2 separate regions of the Homo sapiens genome follow, and region 1 is linked to region 2. Evidence: fine-mapped expression QTL. Tissue or cell type: whole blood. Region 2 holds a variant in brackets; the other region holds the start of a gene. All regions are shown on one strand. Distances are between the middles of the regions.

Region 1 (5,816 bases), 64 kb after region 2:
TCACACAGATCCAACCTAGCTCCTAGCCCAGCTACATGAGGCTGGACACTGAGAGGGACCCCTTCTAATCTCGAAGCATGGGCTGTGACCTGCTGCCTCTTGGCATGGAAACTGGATTTTCTCAGCCTCCCATCCAGGCTCAGCCCAAGTCAGAGAGAGGAAGACTGGCCTGAAGGTGACAGAAGGAGGGAAGAGCACTCAGCTGCATGCCTGCTGAGCTGGGCCAGGGCCAGCTGGACAGTGAACTTGTCCCACAGGGGCCACAAATTAGGGAGGGCAGAGGCTGATGTCATGCCAGCCTTGGGCAGCCCACCTAGGAGCTCCCTCAGGGCAGCCAGAAAATCATCCCTTCTCAACCCTGTGTCTGGGGTCTCCCCGTCCATGCCAACAGGAACTTTTCCCTGTGAGCCATCCACCCAGCACTGACTCATCAGCCTGCCTTGGAGGGAACTGGGAAAAAAGTGGGGCCAGAGGGTGGAGCCTGGATTGACGGGAGAAGTCTGGGTTTCCCAAGGTCAGCAGCAGCCCTGGCTTCCCTCTCTGCCCCTACCTCCCCACCCCATTCCTGTGCTGGGGGATGGGGGTGGGAGTCACTGGGGGCTGAGTCCTGGCTCTGGCCCCGGGGAACCTCCAGAGACTGGTCCAGCCCAGGCTGCTTCAGCTGAGTCAGTAGGGATCCAAGTTGCAGCTCGCCTGAGGCCAGAGCATCAGGCCACCTGCCCACAACCCATGTAAAGCTGGACCCAGCCTTGAGGTCACTCTTGGACACAGTCACTGGACCTGTTTTCGTGGGAGCCCAGGTCTGAGACAAGAAGGCCTCAGAAGCCCAGCCCCTGAAATAACAACAACAACTGCTACTACCACTGCCTACTACCACTACTATGGTTCCTGAACGCTTGCTCCTCTCCGGGATCCGCACACTCCCTCCTCACAACACCCACCTGAGATCAGGTTCCGAGGGGTGAGTGAGCAGCTGCCCACGGGCTGGTCCCCTTTACAGCCCTGCCTCACATTACAGGAGAGGAGTGGAGACACAGTGCTGGCCTCAGGGAGGGACCCACAGCATAAGGTAAGCTCTGCGGACAGAGGGACCTGGGCTGGAACCCTGCCTCTGTCACTTACCAGTAGCGCGACCCTAGCCTCATAAAAGGCTTTCCCTCCCTCTAGACCAGTCCCTAAGAAGGAAGTCACTTCTTCCAGCCCACCAGAGCTGCAGAGACAGTCATCCTTCCATGTGTCCTGGCCACAGGAGAGATGCGAACCTCATGTGTCCTGGCCACAGAAGTGACACTTACCTCATGGCCACGTTGCTCCCATCGATGACCACTGGTCTCAGGTCGCTGCCCTCCTTTTCCTCTTCTGGGAGTGGAGGCTCCAGGTTGGGAGCCTTAGGGGTGCCACCACCCCGCGGGACTAGAGGGAGCTGAGGGCAGGGGTCCGGTGAGGTCTGGCGCTCCCGCTCGGTGGCTGTCCCGTGTTTCACCAGCTCACCCAGCACCGTGTTGGTGTCTGCCTGGACGCCCAGCTTCTGCAGGACGCTGTGGATCTCCGTGGATGAATAGCCCAGCTTCCGGAAGAAGTCCACCTTCATCTGCAGTTCCAGGGCCGAGGCCTCCTCAGCGGCCAGCTCTTGACCCGGCCTTGGGGTGCCCTGACGGCTGTGGCTGTCCTCAAATTCCCACAGACTCATGGTGGGGCTGGCTTCCAGGACAGGCTTCTCTCCACAGGGGCCACTCATAGCTCAGACTCCTGGAAGGCCCCGCGCCACAGCTCCTACTGAACAACCAACAGGGTTAGGGACGGTGAATAGCGCTCTCTCCTAACCTCCCTCCCAAAACCACATCCAGCAGGATGAGGGATTGGTGGCACTACACACTGCATCGTGTTATTAGTTCAGGTTGTCCTCTCAAAAGCTCTCCCAGCTAGGCATTCCCATTCCCATTCTATAAAGGGAGAAACTGAGGCACAGACATTAAAAACGTGCTCAAGGTCATCCAGCTGTTAGCTGGTGGCTCGAAGATCGGAACTTAGTCTGAACTAAGACTGGAACTACCCCAGCTGTAAAGCCTCGAACCCCCACGCCAACCCAGGGGACCCAGAAGGCAGGGACGGGGCTCTCAGATGGAATCCTGGGGCTGGAAGTGCGTTGCGGGGCCCAAGGCTTCCCCACTGAGGCCACCACTTTCGCCCACCCGTCCGGCACTCAGAGCTCAGGCCCAGGCAGCGCAAGGCCCATGGCCGGACTCCCGGAGCCGGGGAGGGCAAGTTTCTGGGGTGACCCGTGGGGAGAAAAGTTGCTGGAAAACTTTGGTTGGCTGCCGGGAGCTGGTGACGCCGAGGCTGTCCCGGCCCGAGACCCGCGCTTGCTCGGCCCGCGATCCCGATCAGGAACCTGGTGCTCTTCCCCGGCTCTCCCAACTTGGGCAAAGTTGGAGGGGTCCTGAGGCCCGGCGGGCCGGGGAACAGGACCCCGACCCTTCCGTCCCCTCCCCTCTCCACCCCTCCCGTCCCCTCCCGTCCCCTCCCCTCGGCTCGGCTCGGACCCCGCCGGAGCGCTCCCTGCCGCTTCCCCGCCGAGGCCCGCACCCTCCCCGCCGCGCCTCACCCCGCCATGCGCCAGCGGCGGCCGGCGGCGTCTCCATGGGGCCGAGTCCTGGGGGTAAGGACGGCGGCGCCTTTATATGGGGCGGCGCGCGGGCAGGTGGTGGTGAGGCACTGACGCGGAAGCGGGCAAGGGGCGGGGCCGTCCCGGGAGACCGCCCCGGGGGCGGGGCTGCCTCGCCCCTTCCTGCTCCGCTCCTCGCGTCGCGGCCCCGCCCCCGCGGCCGCTGCGCGCCGGACGGGGCCCAAGCGGGGGTCGGAGCCTCAAGGCTGCGGCGGCGACGAGCTCCGAGCGGGACACTGAACGGCCCGTATGCGCAAGATAAGCACGGACTGAATCAGGTACACGCACCTGCCGGGGACGCACTGACCGAGGTGCGGACGGCGGTACCAGGACAGGTAAAGCCGCGAACACTCGGACCTAAGAACTTGACAGGTACACCCTGCCTGATGAAGCTACGTACGGCCAGGTGCGCATCGAGTGAATCAGGTACGCGGAGGTTGGTCCACGCACCTTGGAGGCAGGTCCATGGTTATAGACAGGTACATCCAGACAGGCACTTTTCAGATGGAGTCAGGCCCCCTCAAGACACACTGTGCTTAAAGCCGTCACACAGAGGTTGGCCACCCCCGGGGCCAGGTACACTTTTCCTGAAATCTGTACTTTACTAGGACCAAAAGGCAGGTTCAGTCAGCAGATGCACAATGACCGAGGCAGAAAACCAGGCAAAAGAGGGCCATTTACCCCAATCACCACATGAATACTGTCCACACAAGAATACTGTCACCCATACCGCAGAACTCACTGAGCGCCCCCACTGGAGGAGCACCCTTGCTCCATGAAGATGCTTTTAGTTTCCCAGGTCAGACCTGATCCCTCGCATGAGCACAGCACTTTACAGGCTTACACTCACGGGCTTACAGACAGAGGTCATTATGCTGATGTTACCCTTGAGAAATTCTGCAAAGGCTAAACTGCCCCAGCTGGAAAGACTCGAACCAGGATGGAGAGCTCCTATTCTAGTGCTCCTATTATTTGCCATTTTTGTGAACCACGAGTGACTGAGGGCAGAGGGGAGCCTGGCTTCCTATGTGTGTGTGTGTGTGTGCGTGCGTGTGTGTGAGTGAGAGAGAGAGAGAGAAAACACAGAGCCCACACGCTGGAGGACAGAGCCACATGCCACCAGTGCTTACTATGTGCCAGTCCTTTGTTACATTCTCTCTACCTCATCATAGGCATGTATCCTATAAGTGCTAGTGTTATAATAAATACTTGTTTATTGTAAAAGACACCATAGACACAACTGTACATGTACAGCTTAAAGAATAATAGTAATAATAAAAAAGCCATGTATCCATCACCTAACTTAAAAAATAGACCAGTGCCAGTACCTTGAGGCCCTCTGGGTGCCCCCATCACAGCCTCCTGCCCACATCCTGAAGAACTAGTTTCCTGAACTTTAATTGTGCTAGTCATTCTCTTGCTTTTTCTTGTAGTTTTACCACCTCTGTATGCATCCCTAAGTGGGATATTGTATAGTTTTGCTATTTTTTACTTTGTGTAAACGGAGTCATTCCATAATTATGTGACTTCCTTTTTCATACAGCATTATATTTTTAAAAATCCATTTTGATTGCCTGCATACCTGTAATTTATTTTACTACTGAATAGTGTCCCATTTTATGAATATACCACTGGTTACTTATTCAGTCACCTGCTGTTGGATGTTGTTTCTAGGATTTTTTTTCTATTACAAAGACTGTGCTTTGGATATTCTTGTATGTATCTTAATGAAATTGTACAGTGGAGGAAATGGATGTTCAGAGATTCAGAAAGGTGAAGTCACCTGCTCAGGCTCTGGGGGCTGGTGGAGCTGGAACTCATGTAGCTCTCTCCAAGGCAGTCCATCTCCCCATCCACACCTGCTTGTTCGGGAGGCCACCAAAGACCCCAGGGAGGCAGGCGTGTACGTCTCTATCTGGACCCTGAGGCTGTTCCTCTGGGCTTGCTTGCTCTTACCTAGCGGTGTTCCTGCTTTGTTGCCTGGTCATCTTTGAAGACCCCAAAGTGTCCCCTTCTCTGCTCCCCAGGCACAGCAGCTCCAGGGGCTTGGCAACCCAAGGAGAGAGGAAACACAAGGCCCCCTGCTGCATGCCAGCTCACATCCCATGCTGGGCACCTCACATGCTTGCTGTCACTCCAGCTGAGTGCGGTGCCGGCGGCACCCCTAACCTCACAACAGTCCCTTTTACAGATGAGAAGAGCTCAGTTATGTTAAGCATTTATTCGCTATAGCAACTACCTTTAAGATAGTAAAAACATTAAGTGATGTGTCCAGGTTAATAATGATAATGACAATACTAATCAATCATAGAGATAATGCCTCCCATTTATAGAGTGCTCACTGGGTGGCAGGCACCAGCTAGCGCCTTGCAGACACTTTCGGGCCTCTGCTCTGCTTCTTCCTTGGCTTGGAGTGCCCTTCCCTCTCTCCCACCCAGCTGCTTCCTAGCCAGTTCCATTCATCTTTTGGATGATGTCACCTCCTCTGTGAGGCCAGCCAAGACTCCTTTGATGCTGGTTGTACCCTCCTAAGTGTCCCCACAACACCCTGCCTATGTCCCAACGTGTTAGATTGTCTTTGCCAGCCTGAGACCTCCTCTGGAGCTGCAACAAGACCAGACTCTGCTCCTGCTCCCAGACCCTCTGCTGCCCAGCCCTGTGCCAGTAGGAGCCAGCAGGACTAGGCGATGAGTCATGCTGCTCCCTGCCCTCCCAGAGAGAGCCACAGTCTCGCTGTCTTCCGGCTCATGCTACTTCCCAAGAAGCCGACTCTCCTCTACAGAACCCACGGCTTCTTTGGGGAACCCCTGCTCCGTTTACAGCTGGATTTTGCAAACTTTGGCCCTAATCCCCAGGAGTTCTCTGAAGCCGAGCCCACACAAACCCCTCTGCCTCTCGTATGCCTGTCTTGGCAGCTGGGCTGGCTAATTTCCTTCTTGGAGCCTGCCTGGCCTCCCACCATCTATCTGCCTGTGCCCAGCCAGCGTAGGTGGGGTCTGCAAAGCTTGTGGACTGGTCACTGCCTGAGGGTGGTGGGGGGTTGGGAGATGAGGTTGGAGAGGGAAAGGTCCCAGGAATGACCTTGGCTTTCAGTTGCTTCACTGGGCAGCTCAGCCTGGGGAGGACCCGGGAACTGGGCTACCTCTGTAGA
Region 2 (5,692 bases):
GAAATGTTGTTCTAAATGCCAAAGTCCAAATTACAAGACTTTTTGCATGCACTTCGTTCAAAAAGAACAAGATTTGGGCTGCCTTTAGATTGTGCACTGCGTTTAAATTACAGAATCTGTTTGAATTTTAGGAGCGTGAGGATCATCCCCGGAGAGGACGGGAGGATCGGCAGCACAGGGAACCATCAGAACAGGAACACAGGAGAGCTAGGAACAGTGACCGGGACAGACACCGGGGCCATTCCCACCAAAGGAGAACGTCTAACGAGAGGCCTGGGAGTGGGCAGGGTCAGGGACGGGATCGAGACACTCAGAACCTGCAGGCTCAGGAAGAAGAGCGGGAGTTTTATAATGCCAGGCGACGGGAGCATCGCCAGAGGAATGACGTTGGTGGTGGCGGCAGTGAGTCTCAGGAGTTGGTTCCTCGGCCTGGTGGCAACAACAAAGAAAAAGAGGTGCCCGCTAAAGAAAAACCAAGCTTTGAACTTTCTGGGGCACTTCTTGAGGACACCAACACTTTCCGGGGTGTAGTCATTAAATATAGTGAGCCCCCAGAAGCACGTATCCCCAAAAAACGGTGGCGTCTCTACCCATTTAAAAATGATGAGGTGCTTCCAGTCATGTACATACATCGACAGAGTGCGTACCTACTGGGTCGACACCGCCGCATTGCAGACATTCCAATTGATCACCCGTCTTGTTCAAAGCAGCATGCGGTCTTTCAATATCGGTAAGTAACATGGAGGAAGAAACTGTAATGTGAGCAGAAACAATCACTCAGTTAGGATTACTAAGATTTTTGTTCATGTTTATGCAGAAGAATCCCATACCCCTCATATGTTATCTAAAGAGTATTGTTAATCTAACTGCCCTTTAAATAATTGCTTACATATTTATAAGAACATTAAACTTTTAATCTATTTTTTATTTTTTTGTGACAAGGTCTCACTCTGTCACCCAGTCTAGAGTGCAGTGGAGCAAACACAGCTCACTCCAGCGGCAACCTCCTGGGCTCAAATGATTGTCTCCTGCCTCGGCCTCCTGAGTAACTGGGACCACAGGCGTGTGCCTCTGTGCCCAGCTAATTTTGAAACTGGATCTTGATAGCTTGCATGGGACATCTGTGATGATTCTCACAACAATCCTGTGAGAAGGATAGGATAGATTTTTTGTTTTTTGAGACGGAGTCTCGTTCTGTGCCCAGGCTGGAGTGCAGTGGCGCGATCTCAACTCACTGCAACCTCTGCATCCCGGGTTCAAGTGATTCCCCTGCCTCAGCCTCCCGAGCAGCTGAGAGTACAGGCACACACCAGCACACCCAGCTAATTTTTGTATTTTTAGTAGAGACGGGGTTTCATTGTATTGGCCAGGCTGGTCTCGAACTCCTGACCTCGTGATCCGCCTGCCTTGGCCTTCCAAAGTGCTGAGATTACAGGTGTGAGCCACTGCGGCTGGCCCGTTTTGTTTGTTTGTTTTTTAACATGGTCTCCTGACTTCGAATGGACACGTATTTGTATCCCCATTTGACAGATGAGAAGACTGAAGCCCAGCAAAACCAAGTGACTTGCCTAACAAATGATCACTATAGTACAGTGGTCCCCAACCTTTTTGGCACCAAGGACCAGTTTCATGGAAGACAGTTTTTCCATGGAACCGGGGGAATTCGGGATAATTCAAGTGCATTACATTTATTGTGCACTTTATTTTCTAATACTATCACATTGTAATATATAATGTAATAATTATACAACTCACCATAATCTAGAATCAGTGGAAGCCCTGAGCTTGTTTTCCTCCAGCTTGATGGTCCCATCTGGGGGTGATGGGTGACAGTGACAGATCAGGCATTAGATTCTCGTAAGGAGCGCGCAACCTAGATCCCACCTGTGCACAGTTCACAATAGGGTTCATGCTCCTACGAGACTCTAATGCCACTGCTGATCTGACAGGAGGCGGAGCTCAGGCAATGATAATTCAAGTGATGGGGAGCAGCTGAAAATATAGATGAAGTTTGGCTCGCTTGCCTGCTTGCCCGCTGCTCACCTCTTGCTGTGTGGTCCGGTTCCTAACAGGCCACGGACTGGTACCAGTCCATGGCCCAGGAGCTGGGGACCCCTGCCATAGTAGAACTCTGGCTCAAATATAGCTCCCTTGACTCTGAAGTCCAAGTGCACTGTTTTTTCCCATTTGGACAGGAACTAAAATATATTGAAATATAGGTTAAAGAAACATTATGTTGATTATAAACAACAGAAAAAAATGTATTTTCTTAACCACAGCAAGAGACATTGGATTCTGCATTTCCACCTTTTGATCTACCATGGATTCTCCCCACCTTCCAGCAACTCATTCTCAC[C/T]TTTTTTTTTTTTTTTTTTTTTGAGACAGAGTCTCGCTCTGTTGCCCAGGCTGGAGTGCAGTGGCGTGATCTCGGCTCACTGCAACCTCTGCCTCCTGGGTTCACGCCATTCTCGTGCCTCAACCTCCCAAGTAGCTGGCTCCACAGGCGCCCGCCACCATACCTGCCTAATTTTTTTGTATTTTTAGTAGAGACGGGGTTTCACCATGTTAGCCAGGATGGTCTCCATCTCCTGACCTCGTGATCCGCCCGTCTCGGCCTCCCAAAGTGCTGGGATTACAGGCGTGAGCCACCGCGCCCGGTCCATTCTCACCTTTTCTAAGTATATTTAAACTTCCAATTTTCCTTCCCAGGGCCATGCTTTCCCCTTGATTTCTTTGATTCCCTAGAATTTTAACTTGAATTGTGCTCAAGCCAGGTTATTTACGTCATCTAGGCTATCTTAGCAAAGAGCTTTAGAGAAGCTGGATGATCTGAGGCAGAAGTTTGCTCACAGGTTTCTCCTTTTTTTCTGCTAGGCTTGTGGAATATACCCGTGCTGATGGCACAGTTGGCCGAAGAGTGAAGCCCTACATCATTGACCTTGGCTCAGGCAATGGAACCTTCTTAAACAACAAACGTATTGAGCCACAGAGATACTATGAACTAAAAGAAAAGGATGTACTCAAATTTGGATTCAGTAGCAGAGAATACGTCTTGCTCCATGAGTCGTCGGACACTTCTGAAATAGACAGGAAAGATGACGAGGATGAGGAGGAGGAGGAAGAAGTGTCTGACAGCTAGCAAACTAAGAACCCAAACTATTGATACACGGTTTCCTTCTTGGAAGTCTTTGATTGACTCAGAGAGCACTATGGTGGTGGGTCCAGCACTATGGTGCTCTCTGTAATGCCTCTTACTGCCTTAAGTCTTTCCTCTGTTGCTGACCAGATTGTGTTACCATTTGAATACACTGACTAATGTTTGTTAAACTTTTTCTGTGGCACCTTGGCCACATGCCTGCAGGCATTTGTTTTCAGAACAGTCTCACCAATTACAACACACCGTGTTTTAGTAGAAGTGTTGTGGTTTTAGTTGGTGCTTTCAGAACTGCTGCCTAGGAAACTATAAACCCTTGGTTAAGGGGAAATCATGGCTTGTTCTCTTTGTACAGTTACTTTATTTATATAGGTGTTAAGCTTTGTGGACCAGGTGTTTTTCTTTTGGGGCGAACCCCTGAGCAGAGAATCTTACTAGGCTTTGGTTATCACCAAAACAACCTCCAGTATATACCAAAGCTTTGACTTGTTTGAGCTCTTGAGCTTAGAAGTTGATTTTGCACTTATTTTTTTGGGGGGTGGGAATGTACTGCAGTCAGTAAACATTATTGACTGTTTAACTTAAACAGATGCTTTATGGCACCTGCTCAAGCCCGTGACTGTACAGAAGGATCCTGGTTGCTACCAGTGGGTGCTGATTCAGCATCACAAGTGACTGAAATTGGCTGTGGATCTGTTCTTTGTGAAAGAATTCCTGATTTCTCCATGGAGCATGTACACAACAATTTTGATCATATTAACTGTACTTCAGTTTTGCATTTTTATTCAAATGTTATCTCTTTTTTTCTTTGAGAAATAAACTGTCACTGATGTGACAGCGTTCTTTCTTTATTCTAATAACATGTATAGATCTAAAGCAGGTTGTGTTGTTTACATGTTTCTACACATTTCATCCTTTAAAAAGTTGTTGAGAGAGGTTGTATTTACCTTCCCAAGGTTGGAAAGCAGGGGAATTTCCCAGTGTCCTAGTTTTCCACCAGAGGAATATGTGTAAGTAGCAAAGTATTTGCTGCTTACATATAGTGTGTATGTATGTATATATGTAAATTGTGTGTTAAAGAGCTGATACTGATTTTCATATGACAATGTTAGGCAAAGGCCTCCCTGCATTTGAAGAGCAGGTTTTCATTTATATGTATTTTTGGGATAAAAAAATAAAATTTGTAAATATAGCCCCATTTCAAAGAGTAATGCTTTCCTAGCGTAGAGGACCTTGTGTTCATAGGTCTGTTTGCTGCTAATGGAGCCTTCTGTCAGTACTTTTGAGATAAAAGTAGGTAGCTGTTTTAGAGTGTTGTGGGGCAGGTTATATCGTTGGCCTCCAAGTCAGTGGAATAGCAGATGGTGACATGGAGGTGGGTTGTGGGGAAAGGTGGTGAAGCAGCTCAATCAGTGTTACTACTAATTGTTCCTCTTGGGTTGAGACTTAGGATACTATTAAATTTGATTGTTTTCCATTGTTTTTATACCCATGTGTGCTCAGGGCTAAAGATTGGCTAGTGGGAGGGGCAGCTGACTAATGTTCATTCAGAAGAAGTTAAAAGATCCTTTGAAAAGTGAACACTTAATAAGGTCATTAGATGAAACGTAAGTTGGGCCGGGCATGGGCACAGTGGCTCATGCCTGTAATCCCAACACTTTCGGAGGCTGAGGTGGGCAGATCATCTGAGGTCAGGAGTTCAAGACCAACCTGGCCAACATGGTGAAACCCCATCTCTACTAAAAATACAAAAATTAGCTGGGCGTGGTGGCACATGCCTGTTTTAATCCCAGCTACTCGGGAGGCTGAGGCAGGAGAATCGCTTGAACCCGGGAGGTGGAGGTTGCAGCGAGCTGAGATTGTGCCACTGCACTCCAGCCTGGGTGACAGCGAGACTCTGTCTCAGAAAAAAAAAAAAAAGGTAAGTTGAAGAATGTGTTCTACATTGGCCACTGTAACTGCTATTTTCTTCATTTTGGTATGTGCCATAGATCATATATATGTGCTTGTCTGAAAAGTAGGTTTGTTTGGATGAACTTTTCTCTTGATCCAGACTGACGGTTTTCTCTTGAGGGTTTAAGCACTAATCTGGTATCTTACTCTAGGATCTCCTTGTTCAGTCTGTGCTGCAGTAGCACTACTTTGTGGTAGCCTTGAGTTTTGCTACAAACTTCATCCTGGTGGGCACTGTGATAGATGACCACTTTGCCTACATTTTTCAGTAAGAAGTCCTAATTGTTTAGTCAGTTTTTATTTTAGTAGAGGAATAACGTCCTGGATTAAGAAATTCTTTATGCCACATATCTGAGAAGGTGGGTTTTTTTGTTGGTTTGTTTGTTTTGAGATGGCGTCTCACTCTGTCGCCCAGGCTGGAGTGCAGTGGCACCATCTTGGCTCACTGCAACCTCCGCCTCCCAGTTTCAAGCGATTCTCCTGCCTCAGCCTCCCAAGTAGCTGGGACTACAGGCACCTGTCACCAAGCCTGGCTAATTTATATATATAATTTTTATTTTTTATTTTTTTTTAGTAGAGATGGGG

The links. PIP is the estimated chance that this variant, and not a neighbour inherited with it, causes the effect.
Region 1: LITATS1 starts here. The variant in region 2 is fine-mapped to the expression of LITATS1 in whole blood (TOPMed, PIP above 0.99).

The regions. Positions count from the first base shown.
Region 1 is chr1:37,471,419-37,477,234 of GRCh38, reverse strand. It overlaps LITATS1 (lncRNA induced by TGF-beta and antagonizes TGF-beta signaling 1), which reads left to right and starts at 2,792. Exons shown (of 3, transcript NR_038842.1): 1 at 2,792-3,091. It overlaps ZC3H12A (zinc finger CCCH-type containing 12A), which reads right to left and starts at 2,655. Exons shown (of 6, transcript NM_025079.3): 1 at 2,606-2,655; 2 at 1,296-1,776. The coding sequence starts at 1,738. RefSeq lists an enhancer at 1,711-1,810 and silencers at 2,461-2,920, 3,381-3,480.
Region 2 is chr1:37,535,195-37,540,886 of GRCh38, reverse strand. It overlaps SNIP1 (Smad nuclear interacting protein 1), which reads left to right. Exons shown (of 4, transcript NM_024700.4): 3 at 132-730; 4 at 2,875-5,692. The coding sequence ends at 3,139. LOC105378649 (a long non-coding RNA gene) reads right to left here. Exons shown (of 3, transcript XR_947190.3): 3 at 2,151-2,198. Among named protein-coding and RNA genes, the nearest start is that of SNIP1, 16 kb to the left of the region's middle. RefSeq lists an enhancer at 1-1,196. The variant C/T (reference allele first, on the strand shown) is at 2,357.